2 separate regions of the Homo sapiens genome follow, and region 2 is linked to region 1. The links come from fine-mapping of genetic effects on gene expression. Tissue or cell type: whole blood. Region 1 holds a variant in brackets; the other region holds the start of a gene. All regions are shown on one strand. Distances are between the middles of the regions.

Region 1 (2,718 bases):
CTTGAATGGCTGTTGGTTTTTCTAGGCCCTCCATTGACCCTATGTGTAGAGACTTCCCTCTCCGTGCCTTTGAAGAGGGACTCCAGGACCCACGTTGGGGCGGTTCTTGCTTATTGCTTTTGTTGCATTTTCGAAAAAAAAAAAAAAAAAAAAAAAAACAAAAGAAACAGCACAACTGGGAACACCGTATGTTCCTCGTGTTGTGGGAAATGGAGAGTAAAAATGGGAAATGTAGAATAAAAGTGCTTCACGGCTACATTTTCCCTTGCAGTTTTATCCACTACGAGTTTGGTGGCCCCACAACTTTGTTGGAAAGAGCTCACTATCGAGATTCTTAGAGTCCCTAGAAAAATAAAATAATGAGACATAAGAACGCAGGAGAAATGTGCAAGCCAGGTCAGAGGACAAACTGCAGAACAAGGCTCAAAGATGAGACTGCTCATCAAACCTCCAGGTGACGAAGCACACACACGCGCTGCCACATCGGAGCGACGGATGAAGGGAGCGGTTATCTGGGGGAAACAGAACCAGGCTGGCTTAATTTTCTCTTCCTAGTTTGGGATGATTTCACGGAAACAAGTGTTTCAGTAAAAACTTTCACAATAGGGAAAAGCCCATCTAAAGGTATGAAGATTTAAGTTATAGCATCATTTAAAAACAGCGGGCTCCTTTTCTCTTCCCTGCCCTTCCTGAACAATTCTGTTTAGAAGCCATGGCAGTGAGGGGTAGAGGGGACTGAGTAAGGATAGGGCACGGGCTGGGGAAGCTGGCGGATGGCGTGCTGCCTGGACCCCTTCACTGGGGGGCTTGTTGCCCCACCTGCTGGGAGAAAGCCTTCAGTTGTGGCCCTTTTATTTAGGTTTGCTTTTTTTTGCTTTTTTTGAGACAGGGTCTCACTTAGTCATCCAGGCCAGAGTGCAATGGTGCAAGAGCTCAGCTCACTGCAACCTCTGCATCCTGGGTTCTAGCGATTCTCATGCCTCAGCCTCCTGAGTCACTGGGAATACAGGTGCCCACCACCACGCCTATAGTGGTAATTTTTTTTTTTTTTTGTATTTTTAGTAGAGATGGGGTTTTGCTATGTTGGCCAGGCTGGTCTTGAACTCCTGACCTCAAGTGATCTGCCCGCCTTGGCCTCCCAAAGTGCTGGGATTACAGGCGTGAGTCACTGTGCCCAGCCCCCTTTAGGGTTTTGCAAAAAGCTGCCTTGGCCCTGCCCTTCCCAGAAGGGCCCCA[T/C]CCAGGGACTGACTGTGGAGGAGGTAAAAAGGTCACTGGGGCCCAACTCCGGACAGCCATGAAGAGCCTTTAACCCCAGAGCTGCTGCGGGTGCCTGCCTGGCCTCACTGTGGGATGATCTCTGTCTTCTCAATCCCACTGCCTTCCCCTCCCTTCCAAAGGCATTGGTCCCAAGGGCCCTCCTTGATGAAACCCATCTGGGAGGAACCCACCAGGGAAAAGGATGGAAGTGCGGGAGGGACGCAGGGGGGAGGCCGTCGCATGTGGGGACAGCTGTTGGGAGGGTGAGGATACTGGAGAGACGCTGGGGCCTGACGAAATAAATACATACTCCAAAGGTGGAGAGCACAGGCCAGGCTTCCACTGTCACAGCCGGAGTTGCAAGTATAGGGAAGGAAAAGGCTAGGATGAACCCTGGCATGCTGGACTGGAATTGGAGCCTACGTTCCACCACAAGCGCACAGAAAAGGGTGAACACAGCAGGCCTGAGCCACTCCCGTTAGAAAAGCCTGCTTACAGGCAGATCACGAGGTCAAGAGATTGGGACCATCCTGGCCAACATGGTGAAACCCCATCTCTCCTAAAAATACAAAAAACAGCTGGGCATGGTGGTGCACGCCTGTAGTCTCAGCTACTCAGGAGGCTGAGGCAGGAGAATCGCTGGAACCCAGGAGGCGGGGGTTGCAGTTAGCCGAGATTGTGCCACTGCATTCCAGCCTGGGTGACAAAGTGAGACTCCATTTCAAAAAAAAAAAAAAAAAAGTACAGGTACATCCCTAATCAGAAAATCTGAAATTCAAAATACTCCAAATTCTGAAATTTTTGAGTGTCAACATAATATAAGTATACTGCAAGTATTCCAAAAGCTGAAAAAAGATGAAATCCAAAACACTTCTGGTCCCAAGCAATTGGAATAAAGGATATTCAACATGTATTTGGGGGTGACGGGGCATCAGGCCTTCAACTTATCCCAAATCAATCAGGAGAATGAATAGTATCTTTATTCTGTACCTCCAATATTTCTGTAAGTATGAGATTGTTTCAAAAGCACTTAGAAATAATATAAAGGCATGTAGTCATATAATGACTCAAACTATACCAAGCTGACTCTACAGCAGACTTTCCATCACATGAGCATTTCTGAGCACTATTGGTTGAGTACACATGGACACATCCAGATGCTATCAATACATTAAGGATAAATTGATTGTGAAATCCAACTCCAACCTGAACCAATAAACAGGCTTGTTTTGGAGTTGGCCTACAAATTAGGGTAACTGTTGGAACAACTCTTTCAAAGGCATGCTGAACATACGAAGATACAGCCCTATTAAAAAAAAAGGAGAGGCAAAAGACAGCTCTAAGAGTTTACCAACTGGCTGGGAATTAACAGTAAATCTGCATTTATGTAATGAAGCTACTGACATATTCTCAAGGATCTTACAGCATTTGATCACTTGATCCTTACATGATCTTCCCAGG
Region 2 (2,500 bases), 230 kb after region 1:
ATGAGTGTCCGGCCACCGAGAATCAGCCACTTCCCACCCTCCAGGATCCCCCAGCTCCCTCCAGCCCCTTCCCACCGCCCCTGGTCAAAATCAATAAATACATCTCGCAGTTCCTACAGTTGCATTTTGGCGGATTTCTGCAAAACATACACACACATACACATACCCACGCACGCATATTAAAAAATAAACTCCAGAACCAGCTCAAGTCAGCAATTTTGAAAGGGGGTCGAATAAGAGGAGACAACCGGAAAGCCCCTAAGTGACAGGATATTACTTTAAAGAGAAAATAATGAACAAAAAGACCATCCTCGCTGGAGCACGCTCCAAAACTACTACTGCCAATTTTATTTCAGTTGCTCAGGCAAATGTTTCCAAGGGAGCGATTCCGAATGTCTGCACGATTTTTACCCCCATGCCGGTCTCCGATTCCCCGTCCTCACCATCTTTTTCTCCCACCCAAACCAAAAGAAAGGGGAGACCCCAGCGCGGAGGAGACGCGGGAGCGCGGGGTAGGTAGCAGCGGCGGCTGCGTCGCTAAAATGAGTGCAGAAACGAGGAAGGTGGGCGGCGGGAGGGGACAGGCTGCGCCCGGGGAAGGAGGACACTTTGCAACTCCGGACGGACTCCCGCACGGCTCGGCTTTTCCGAGCCCGGAGACGCAGGCGAAGGGGACCCGGGAAGCAAAAATGACAACCTGGAGCGCACAGAGGAGTTTGAAGCTTCGCTCAAGTGCAGTCGCTTTCTTCTCCTGCCCTTCTCTTTCGCTCCCCTGCACCCTCCCCAGCCTTCCCCCACCCGCCACCTCCAACCCCAGCTCCCTCAGGCTTCCTTCCTTTTTTTTTTTTTCCTTTTTTTTCCTAGGCTGGAAAAAGCCCCTGACCAGCGCACTCAACCTGCGGGCCGAAGGGCTGCTCTCCGGCCAGCCTGGGCGCCGGGGACAGCAGCCGGCGCGGCGTCCTACCTGGTGAAGTTCGTCCTGCCCTCGGCGTGGACCCAGGCCCCGGTCGCCGCCCGGGAGGGCACCGGCCTCGCTCGCTTGCTCGCTCGCCCGCCCTTGCCCGCTCGCTCCCCGCCCGCCGCCTCCCTCGCGCGCCCGCTCCGGTCCTCCGGCTCCCACTACAGCTCATTCCAATATGGCATCCTCTCTGTGCGCATGCTCGGCGCTCTTTTTTTTTTTTTTTTTTTTTTTTTTTTAAGATTTTGTGTGTGTGTGTATGTGTGTGCGTGCGCGTGCAGCGAACTCCTTCAACGACCTTTTCCAGCGCTTGCAAAATTTCTTAAGCCAATTAGCCTGCGGGACGTGATCGGCTCCTTCCCCAGCCAGCTCCGCGCCATTCCCTGCGCCTAAGCAGGCGGGCACCCCCAGGACCCTGGGACCTTCCACGCCCACGCGGCCTCCTCCCCACCGCGCTCCCCTTCCTCCTTTTTGTGAGCTCCCTCCATACATGATCTGCAGAAAGTTCCCATCGCGGGCGTTTCCGCACACCCCTCCGCAAGGACAACTGGGCAAACTCCCGTTTCCCTGGCTGCGGTTCGTGAGCTGGGTTTCCAATGGCTCAGTCGACCGTGTGCACAAACTTGCGCTTTATCCGCCGGGGATCGCTGGGAGCGGAGATAAATTCAATCCCCAGGGCAATCTTGGCCCCGCCCGCCCCACCCCATCCTGTGCTTAAATAGAGCCTTTCTTGAAGCTGCGAACATTTCCAGGCCCCTTGGGCAGGGCTGGAGGGGCCGAGGAGAGCTATTCGAGGGAAAGGTGCCCCGAGGGGCAGGAAATTAAGTTGGGGCTGCCCGGGCGAGCTGCCAGGTAGCCGTGCTCGCCACGGCGTCTCATGGGGCACCTAGCTAGTGGCGGGCCTCATAGGGCGGGAAAAGAATCGTCGCTCACACCCCAGCAAAACGTGGCCCTCGACGGTCCGTTGGAGAGCCCCGGCGGCCGTGAGCCCCGGGCAGGGCTGGACGTCTGCGGAGCCCTCGGGCACTTTGTCCCGGGCGCCTGGGGAGGAACGCGGAGCTCCCAGGGCCTTAGGTGCAACGGCTGCGCAGAGCCCAAACGAAATGTCCCCAGTGCGGAAAAGCCGGTGACGCCCTGGTAGCAAGACCAAGAGCTTCCGAAGAACGCTGCGCCCTTAACTAGGGGGCCTCGCAGAGATGCCTGTGTGGGCCTGCATTGTATATTTCTGCGAAATAGCGAATGGACACGTTTGCTCAGGGTTTTTATGGTTGCCAAAGGGGGTAAAATTACCCAGTCCCCCAAATCTGTGTCCCATGAATCCCTCTCATAGTACCCCTCTCCAGGGGGCCAAGAGGTCCTCCAGGTCCCCGTGGGTTCGCAGCTCCACCCGCCCTTCCTCGCCCTGCATCCCTAAGGAGAGGTGTCCGCTCTGAAGGGCTAGGGGCCAGCCATGGAGTGAGGGGACCGGGGCTGACCACGCGCGGCACAGACAGAGGTCCTCAGGCGGGCCCTCTCCTGGACGGTGGGGCCGGAGCTGATCTA

The links. PIP is the estimated chance that this variant, and not a neighbour inherited with it, causes the effect.
Region 2: SFMBT2 starts here. The variant in region 1 is fine-mapped to the expression of SFMBT2 in whole blood (INTERVAL, PIP above 0.99). The same link has a PIP of 0.9 or more in blood mononuclear cells and monocytes.

Annotation. Positions count from the first base shown.
Region 1 is chr10:7,179,259-7,181,976 of GRCh38, forward strand. The region is part of intron 16 of SFMBT2 (Scm like with four mbt domains 2); the gene reads right to left. Among named protein-coding and RNA genes, the nearest start is that of SNORD129, 6.2 kb to the right of the region's middle. The variant T/C (reference allele first, on the strand shown) is at 1,237.
Region 2 is chr10:7,409,897-7,412,396 of GRCh38, forward strand. It overlaps SFMBT2 (Scm like with four mbt domains 2), which reads right to left and starts at 1,138. Exons shown (of 21, transcript NM_001387889.1): 1 at 965-1,138. RefSeq lists a silencer at 1,012-1,151 and enhancers at 1,387-2,307, 2,308-2,500.